3 linked regions of the Homo sapiens genome follow. The protein of the gene in region 1 interacts with the protein of each later gene in a biochemical or structural test. Each region holds a gene or a part of one and is shown on either strand. Other genes may lie near its edges.

The links.
Region 2: the proteins of PALS2 (region 1) and FAM110D interact in a test that uses a peptide from one of them, tested with the Homo sapiens proteins (one large-scale study listed by IntAct).
Region 3: the proteins of PALS2 (region 1) and CYTIP interact in a test that uses a peptide from one of them, tested with the Homo sapiens proteins (one large-scale study listed by IntAct).

The regions. Positions count from the first base shown.
Region 1 is NC_000007.14:24,688,452-24,691,729, forward strand, and holds part of PALS2 (protein PALS2), read left to right. Parts: 3' UTR 1-3,278.
Region 2 is NC_000001.11:26,157,477-26,161,233, reverse strand, and holds the start of FAM110D (protein FAM110D), read right to left. Parts: upstream 2,156-3,757; 5' UTR 2,108-2,155; intron 23-2,107; 5' UTR 1-22.
Region 3 is NC_000002.12:157,417,087-157,420,228, reverse strand, and holds part of CYTIP (cytohesin-interacting protein), read left to right. Parts: intron 1-1,639; coding exon 1,640-1,706; intron 1,707-3,142. UniProt on the Homo sapiens protein: By its binding to cytohesin-1 (CYTH1), it modifies activation of ARFs by CYTH1 and its precise function may be to sequester CYTH1 in the cytoplasm.

The sequences.
Region 1 (3,278 bases):
CATGTAAAATTTTGACTGACAAAAGGAACCTACTACTTTAAACAATGGTTTTATTAGAACATGGTCAGCAAATGTATCATGCCTCTGCAAATTTTAGTGATGTTTAGAGATGCCTCTAAGTTTGCAGTTGGAGGTTTTTGTGCTTTTAGAAATGTGATGTGATCCTTAGGGTACCTGTTTTGTCTGTTGTGTTGAGAACCAAACCCATTGAACAACTTAAAAAATTGGGAAATAATTGTCAGCTATTTTGTATACATACACACAAAATATATACATTATATAATATGTATATTATGTATTATATAATATATATAAAATGTTTTGTATATTTTTTACATATCTGTTAAAAAATGTACTTTGTTTTTTTGTTTGTTTGTTTTGAGATGGAGTCTCTCTCTGTCACCCATGCTGGAGTACAGTGGCGCGATCTCAGCCCGCTGCAACCTCTGCCTCCTGGGTTCATGCGACTCTCGTGCCTCAGCCTCCCAAGTAATTGAGATTACAGTTGGGTGCCACCATGTCCGGCTAATTTTTGTATTTTTAGTACAGATGGGGTTTCACCATGTTGGCCAGGGTGGTCTCGAGCTCCTGACCTCAAGTGATCCACCCACCTTGGCCTCCCAAAGTGCTGAGATTACAAGCATGAGCCACTGCACCTAGCCAAGAAGTGTACTTTTTGTTTAATGATTACCGAAAGAAGTTCTCCTTTAGAAGCATTGACTTATACAAATTCCCACATTCACCTCAGTTAATATCTTCCTTTAGGATTCTTGGATAATAGAAATTCTTCCTAAAACATACTCAGAGATGCAGCTCATTATTAAATTAAGGTAACCACATTCTGTATTGTTGCTAGCTTTTCATGTAAACATTATTCACACTTTAAAGGATTAGGTGTTTAAATATTGATGGTCATCTTTGTCTGGTGTTAGGTGCCAGACACCTGGCTGCTGAATTTGTTTTTTCCCTCACCAAAGTTGTCATTTGGAACGCCAGCTGGGAGGACTTTGAAGGAAAAGAAAATATATGACAATAGGCAGTATTGACACATTGTTTAAAATCTTTTTCACAATAAAACAAAACACCCAAGTTGTCATATTGTTAAAGTTGGAAATCTATAGGTTTTTCTTTTTTTTTTTTTTTTTCTTTTTTTGATTCTAGATTTCATGGCCAGAACACAAATTCACGTTTCTTGTCCTAGGACAGGGAATTGGTGACAAAATGGATTATACTATTTTAATAACAGTGGAAACTTTCAAACTACATGTGTTTACACCAAATTCTTGGCTTCTCAAAGCAACATGAATTAAAGCACAGTATCAAGGTGATGCCCTATGACAATGTTTCAACACACACTTGAAATTTTAAGAGAAATTTCAGTTCTTCACTCAGGAAATGTGCTGTATTCTCTAATGTACTTTCATGCTGCAGCATGGAGCCTCTTTAAACAGCTTTGGGATAATTATAGCAGCACAAGAAGTTTATCTGCAAAATATTTCAATCATCTTGGTACAATAGATGACTTTTACATCATGTATATTAGCCTTATGTGATATAAAATGTATTACTTAGAAAATATACTTAAAGGAATTATTTCTATTATAAATGGTATTCATGATTGACTACTTAATTAATGCACATTAGATTTCTCCTAATATAAAATGAAATGATGCAGTTTAGTTCATTTCAGTCTAGATGCCCGTACTAACAAGAATACAGTTAGATAAGTTCATTGTATCTCAATGAAGAATCATTGAACTTGAAACCCAAGTCCCAAATGAATCTGCAGGAATGAGCAGTGCTCTGCGGGGGCAAACAGCCCCAGAGGTCCCAGGGTTCTTCCTAGGTAATGAGAGTATAGCTGTGATCAAGGAAATGTGAACTTCTCTTTTGGGAAGATCTGCGATAATTAGCTTTATGGAAGCGAAAATGGTTTAGAGTGGTGTTGAGCAATTGTTAAGAGTTGAAATAGACACACACATGCATGTGCTTTTGGGAAACATGATGTGCCAACGTATTAATGTGCCTGAGGGCTCCTTGTGGATAGGTCAGTGTCCACATTTCAGCACTCAGGGCATGACTGTACACAACCTAAGACTATATATATATTTTTTCATTTTCAAATGTACAAATACCCATAGAGGTGATGTGCCTGGATAAGTCATTTAACCATAGCTTAGTGAAATAAATGTGATGGCCCTAAAAAGTAGAATTTTCACTTTCATTACAGCCATGCCTTTATTATGCAGTCTCCATTTCTGTGTGATATTTGGTAATATCACATGTCAAATACATCAGGACTTTGTTTATTTTGGCTAACTCTAACTATACAATTGCTGAACATAGCTTTCTGAAATAGAAATTATAAGAGAAACCCAGTATGCCTACAGCATTAGTAGCCTAAATCCTAGATTCTAGAATCCAATAAATTTATAGTAGTTCTTAAGAAGTTTCCTTTAAAGCAACAAATAGATTATTAAGGCAAATTTAGATAATAACCCAAGTTAGCAATAAAACCATGTGACATTATAGATTATGTCCAGATACTAACTGCTTTGACCATAATATCCCAATGACAATAAAAAATGATCCTTGGTTTAAAAATTATTAAATGGTACTTATTTTTATGTATAACAAGTGTCATGATCCCAGTGACTGGAGTTGATTTTCAAGGTGGATAGCCATAGAGTTAGGTAAAATTATTTTGAATTGGCAAACTAAAGATAACAATTTTGAAAATTGCTCAAAATAATAATCTACTTAAATTTTACTTTTGTAACTTCTGAAACAGTACTCCATTATCCAGAAATCACAGGCTAGAGAGCCAATAATTTTGTAGTAATGAACCTTAACTAAACATGAAAAAGGCAATCCTGAAGTTTTATGTACATAGATAGCAGTTCATTTTTTAAATGTTCGAGTTGCCATATATTATGTATGTGTGTGTGTGTGTGTATATATATATATATATATATATATATATATATATATATACAGCTATGTGTATAATATGTAAAATTCTCCCAAAATGTATGAATATAAAACTGAATGTATTCATTCATGTAATTATAACTAGCATTCTAAAATTTTTAATTACTCCCATTTCTTTGACATTCTGAAACTTTTTTTAGATTGTTTTAAAACGCTCTGGTTCCACCTTGAAGCTGATAATCTTTCTGAAAAATATATGAGAAACTCAGAAAGTAGTCATTATTATAATAAATTTAATTTTCTTAGGGAAAAAGGGCAGGGTTCTGGATGGAAACCCCTTTGGAAAT
Region 2 (3,757 bases), on another chromosome or scaffold:
ATTGGCTTGGGCTCTCACTGACCTGCAGGGAGAGAGGAAGGTCAGGGGAAGGGTAGGAAATGCCCCTGGTCCTCTCCTGCCGGCATTCCTCAGTATAGGATCAGTCAGCCACCCTCTCCCATCCAGGTTAGCCGGTGCCACATCCAGGGAGCAGAGGCTCAGGCCATCCCCTTTCCCTGTCCTTCAGAGACATTGAGTGGGGTCTCTCTGGCCACTCAGAAACATATTCCCCTTTGAAGGTGCCCCAATCTGGCCACAGGGTCGTGCAAGCAGGCCTTAGCAAGCAGGACACTTGGAAAAGGAAACAGGGCTGGTCCCGGCCCAATTCCTGAAAGTGGCTTCAACCGGAAAAAATACCTCTTCCCAACCCAGCAGCTTTGAGCCCAAGACAAGAAGGCTCCCAGCCACAGGCTGGCTCCAGCAGGGCCCACCCTTCCCGCCCCCAAACACCGAGGTCGGGGATATAACCACAGGGTAGGAGCCTCCAGTAATTGCAGCCAACTGCCCTGCCCAGGCCCAGCAGGGCCATCGGGGCAGGAGAGGGAGGTGGTCCCCAGGCCCTATCAGCTACTGCCAGCTACTCTGCCCCTGCCAAGGGGATCGCAGAATGCCAAACTGTAAACATCACCTTGTTTAACCTTTGCATTTCCATTTCATGAAGAGGAAACTGGCTTGGAGAGGAGGGGGGCTTGCTCAGGTCCTATTGAGAGTTAGGAGCCAGGACTGGAACCCAGGTTTCTTTTTTTTTTTTCTTTAGACGGAGTCTTGCTTTGTCACCCAGGTTTCTTGCCTTGCAGTTCAGATTGGATCTCTCACTTGCCTATCAGAACTTCCCACTGAGGCCAGGCGCGATGGCTCATGCCTGTAATCCCAGCACTTTGGGAGGCCGAGGTGGGTGAATTACCTTAGGTGAGGAGTTCCAGACCAGCCTGGCCAACATGGCAAAACCCCATCTCTACTGAAAATACAAAAATTAGCCAGGCGGGGTGGCGCACACCTGTAATCCCAGCTACTTGGGAAGCTGAGGCAGGAGAATCGCTTGAAGCTGGGAGGCGGAGGTTGCAGTGAGCCGAGATCGCGCACCACTGCACTCCAGCCTGGGCAACAGAGCGAGACTCCGTCTCAAAAAAAAAAAAAGAAAAAAAAAAAGAACTCACTGATATTTTGCGTGTATTCCCGCTGCTATAAAACCAAGCAATTTCCGTTAGAAATGGGCCCCTTGCCTCACTAAAAAGTTCCTTCCACTAATTCTTCCTAATAACCTGCGCTCCCACTCCCAGAAATTTGCCCCCAGGGTCCTTGTCCCTTTTTTATCCTAAGACCTCATGACCCTTTTCCACCTCCCTTCTGCTGGGGCAAGGAGCGAGGAGGGGTTGTAAATCAAGAGCTGACAGTTCTCTTGGCAGTAACAGAATGGGCCACCCACATGGCCCTGCACACCCGACCCCACCCCTATCTTCCCCTACTCCCCCTGAGTCCTGGAGGCTGAGGGACCTTGGATCTGGGGACAACAAAGGAACAGAATTAGCCAGGGAAGTGGGGAAGGAGTCTGTGAGAGGCCTTGGGGCAGAGACCCTGCCAGGTCCAGCCCACCCCTGCACCCAGCATCTAGTGTGTAGTCAGTCTGCTCATAGGTAGTTGAGGCCTGGGAACCAAGGAGAGTCTGGCAGTGTCCCCCTCCCTGTCTCCCAGGGAGTCTCCTTGGCAGTGGGTCAGATTCCAAGGTCCCAGGAAGGCACTGCTTGTCTGACCCCATGGGTGCCCTCTGTCCTCTCCTCTTCTCCCCAGCCCTGAGCAGGGAGACTATAAAAAGTTCCTAATCACAAGGACCAAAATAGTCTGTCATCCACAGCCTCTTCCCTGCCTTCTGGGCTAGCCTGGAGGCCGGACCTCAGACATCCCGCCCTAGAAGCCTGGCAGGCAGCCTCGGGCCCTCCATTCCTTTGCCTGCCTTCTCCCAGTCCTGAAACTTGTGGTCTCAACTCTGCCCAAGGCTTCTGCTCTGGGCATGGGCCATCTTTTAGGCTCACTAGTTTGGCACCAGTCTCCCTGCCCTCAGGCCCCTGGGTTCCTTCTTACCCCAGCCCTGGGCTCAGGGTACACTCACCTCTGCATGGGAGGCCTAATTGCAGGGGTCCTTGGGCAGGTCCAGACTGAGGGCAGGAGTGGACAGCAAGGACTAGAAGTAACTTTGGTGGCAGCCAAACCTCACTCTCCACAGGAAAAGCAGAGAAAGCCTCCACCCCCCGCCCCCCAAATTAACCCTCGCCTTCCTGAGGCAGATCCTGGCCTCCATTAACTCTTTCCTGATCACAGTCCTGCGCTGTGGAGACCTGTGAACCAAGTCCAGCTCCTTTTATTTTACAGATGGTCAAACAGTCCCAGCCCGGTTAGGTGATTGGCTGTGGAAGCACTGTGAGCTTGGGCAGAGCCAGGACTCCAAACAAGGCCTCCTGATCCCCAGGCTTCCTCCAAAGGCCTGGGGTGGGGGCTCCGTATGTGGGATCAGCCCCCTCCCTGGGCTGTGGCAGATGCTCTGACAGTCTGAATGGGAAGGCAGAACAGGGTTCTAGTCAACTTGCTTTTTTCCCTCTGTAGCAGGCTGAGACCTGTCTTGGTCTGGGTGCTGGGTGGTGTCAAGCCTGCTTTCCCTGGGGGCGAGACCAGGAATCTGCAGCCTAAGGGTGGGGGCATTGGTGCTATAGATGTGCAGGTGAGCCTGTGGCGGCAAGTCTTGTCATGAAGGTGACCCTGGAGCCCACTGGAGCTGCCTCTGCCAAGGTCCTTTCATGGCAGATGGGATTGCCTGGGAAGACAGTGATGAGGGGCTGATTCCAGGGCCAAGCCCAGGTCCTTTGGCCCGCTTCCTTCTCTGCCCACACTTGGAGCCTCTTAGAGCTTCTTCCATCAGAGTTTCTTCTCTGACACCTTATGTCTCAAGGTGAAACCCTACCTCATAGGAGACACCTCCCCTCTCCCCAGCAGGCAAACTAAACTCTCCAGCCCAGACTAAGACCAGTGCTCAGGCCAAAGGTTCCTTTCCCCCCTTGGCTGGCCACCTTCCCCAAGTCCCTCCTCCTCCTTTCTAGCCCTCTTTCATGTTTGCAAAGCACATTCCCGTCTGTGCTCTCTGATCTCCTTTGACCGCCCCCAAACAAGGACCCTAGACAGGCGTCCAGCAGGAATGACCCCCCACTTAATGAGTAAGGAAACAGGAGCTGAGGGGGGAGAGAGATGCCCAAAGCCCAGCTCCAAATCCACATTTGGAACTGCATCCTCTGCCTGTCAAGTCAGTAGTGGGTCTGAAAACCCAAGGCCCATCTCCCGGTAAAAGGTTTTTATTACCTAAAGGGGGGATTTTGTTGGTGATAGTTCCATATTTTGTTGCTACAGCACTTTTCAAAATGCCATTAGCTGCTTTGTCATAATCCCCATGACAATCTTTGGGGGAGGTTTTATTATTTTTCACACTTACGGCTGAAGAGACTGAGGCTCAGAGAGGAGAAATGACTTATCCAAGCTCACCAAACTCTGTCACCCAGGCTGGAGTGCCGTGACGTGATCTTGGCTCACTGCAACCTCCGCCTCCTGGGTTCAAGCGATTATCCTGCCTCAGCCTCCCGAGTAGCTGGGATAACAGGCAAGTGCCTGGCTAATTTTGTGTTTTTAGTAGAGACAGGGTTTTACCATGTTGCTCAGGCTGATCTTGAACTTCTGACCTTGCGATCTGCCGGCCTCGGCCTCCCAAAGTGCTGGG
Region 3 (3,142 bases), on another chromosome or scaffold:
GGCCTCTTAAGAACTGGTGTGCACCACCATACCCAGCTAATTAGAAAAAAAAATTTGTAGAGATAAGGTCTCACTATGTTGCCCAGGCTTGTTTCAAACTCCTGGTCTCAAGCAATCCTCCCACTTCAACCTCCTAAAGTGCTGAGATTACAGGCGTAAGCCACTGCCCTCAGCCCTCAAAGCAGTATTAAAGCTAGTCTAGACTATATTATGGTACAGAAAGAACAAGAAGTTGATTGAGTCAAGCATTTGATTGATTTATTGCTCGATTTTATATTGGCAACCATAAGGGTTGCTGTTAATTGTTACTAGTATCAAAGTTTGGAAAATTCTGCCCAGTTATTGTTCAATCTTTGAAGACTGAGGAACAAGCCATGTTCCTCTTAAGCATTTAATGACGTTCTTGCAATTTTATTATTTTCTTTCCTTTAATCCTTCTCCAAATATACATTTTTTGCCTCTTCCTTTTTAGCCTTCATCTACTCCTTGCAGATTGCTTTGTGGCAAGGATTGCTTGTTTCAACTAGGCTGTCTTTCCTTTGGCCTAAGAGTCCACAGGCAAACCTGAGCTGTGCCCACTTGCTAGGCTTGCTATAGGGACCTGAATTTGCAAAGGAAGGGGAACAGTAGAGAATAAATAATGGGAGACAGTGAGCCTATGGCTATGTCTTTTCAGATGCCTTCTGCCTGGTTTGTTTTAGATTGCCATTGCCTCAGTCCCCTCTGTGGGATAGGCCAAGACTTGTGTGCTGTCTTGACCCATGTGGCAGCTACTTAATTCCCACTGTGGGTCTCAGCTCTCGTGTGCTGGGGCAGCCAAGAAGGGAGGCAGTTAAGAAGTTAGGGTGCTTAGCAGTGTTCTAAGTTTAGCCCGCTAAGGAAGCATTTCAGATAGTTCTGTTCTCCTTTTTTGTGTGGAAAATAAATAGCTGTCCAAGCCAGGCACGGTGCCTCACGCCTGTAATCCCTTTGGGAAGCTGAGGTAGGCAGATCACGAGGTCAGGAGTTCGAGATCAGCCTGGCCAGCGTGGTGAAACCCCGTCGCTACTAAAAAGACAGAAATTTGGCCGGGCATGGTGGGGCGTGCCTGTAATCCCAGCTACTTGGGAGGCTGAGGCAGAAGAATTGCTTGAACCCGGGAGGTGGAGGTCTTTGGGCTTGTATGTTGATGGTGATATTTGTAGAGCATTAACTAAGTTCTAGTCACTGTTCTAAAAATTTTACATCTATGCACTCATCTAATCCTCATAACATTTCTGGGGTTTAGGCTCTATTATTGTCTTCATCCTACAGATGTGGGAATCCTAGAGTATAAATCCTTGCCTAAACAGCAAGTACGTTTTCACAAACCCAAATAATCTTATTAAAATAATTGTTTAAATAAAAGTATATTTTATTGTTTTTCTTGTTTTTTAAAAGAAAGCTTGTTGGTACTACTAGATTATTTTTTGAGGGCATAGTATTCTCAATATCCTCCTTTTATACAGCAAAAATATTTTAAATGGATGAGATGGAATGGTAGTACTAGAAAGAAAGGTAAAAAATTTAATGACAAATCTCAACACCTAGAATTAAATTGCTAGCTTCACTGGGGTTTCCTAATAATAAAAACTTTTTTTTTTTTTTTTTAATCTCACAGCAAACTTTGAAACAAAAATGGGTGGAGTACAGATCTCTGCAGTTACAGGAACATCGTCTGCTTCATGGTAAATGCAATTTCCTGTTCAGAAACCACACTAACATTACTTCTTTCAGTATTTCTGCCTCAAAGTTGGTTTAAGATTATCATCATTATAAGAAAAATTTGTCTAGTGCTGGTCAAGGAAATGGGTCTGTGTTTCTTTGGCATGAGCTTTGGAATGGCTGTATTTGGAGGAGGGGTAAGGCAAGTCAGATCCACTACTGCGTATCATGACGCAGATGCACATGCACACAGATGCACATGCTCGAAAACAGGCACCTGGAGATTTTAGAAAATCATTGGGGAAGATTGCCTAACTTTCCTTCTACTTCAGTGAATGAATTACATTTCTGAAAACAATCACGGCTAAGGGGCTGTATAGTTTTTAGAAGCTATTAAAGCTGGAATGGTTGCACACTTATTGGGTAGAGCTCCTGTCTTTTGTTTAAATTGCATAAGTTGCATTTATGCAGAGAAATTCTTTTTCATGGCCCCCAAGACAAAGACATAAATGCGTAAGATGAATACAACAGTAAATGCATAGCTCTTGCCATTGAGTGCATTTTTAAGGGAAGGGTTGAGTTTAAAATGTGTTAATTCGCTATTTGTTGTATGATAGATGTAACCAAAGGAATGAACTTTTGTGTACAAATAATTCACTGAAACCACTACGTGGGTGTGAAATATAGCTTATCTCTTCTTTAAATAGCACCAAGCTTAAGTCTGTAACCTAGAATATCTGTTAAAAGTGATAATCAATTTGTTTACCAAAAAAGATAACAATTTAATCCTTAACTAGTCACTAATTTATGGCTTAGAGTTCTGGTATGAACTTCTGTTTTTTTTTTTTTAAATTGAAGTGTTTGAAACTTATGTACAAGTTACTTCTCTTTTTTATGTCTTCATTTAATATTTTTAAAAAATTCATAATAGTTCTTTTGGGTAGTGAAGTTTGTTAGAGAGGCAGAAATATTTAATACAAAAACTTCTTTATGGCCTTGTAAATTCAGCCACCTCCTTGCTTTCTTTAGACATGAGGGCTTTTTAGCCTCATTTCCACTTCTGGAGCATCCTGAATGGCCCAGTGAATATAAATTCTTGCTGTTCTATAGAAACAGCCTTGTATAGACAACATTGTTAGGTCAGGATCCTCATAAAGTCATTGTTGTACATATTTTTTGAGCAATTGAAGGAGTTCTGCTTTTTCTAGATGTATAGTAAACATCCAGGGCATGTGATTCTATAAGGCAATTGCTCTCCAATCAAAAGAAATTCATCACTTATTGCAAGATGAAATGAAGTAGGTTGTATTAGCAAAAAGGAAAGCATTATGACTAGTCACCATGGGGCTGGCTGTACTCAACCTTGCAAATCATCTGAAAGAACAGTTTCTTTTTATATTGTCAACCGAGGACAAAAGACAGCAGCAGTGGAGATAATCAGTACAAAATAAAACCATTT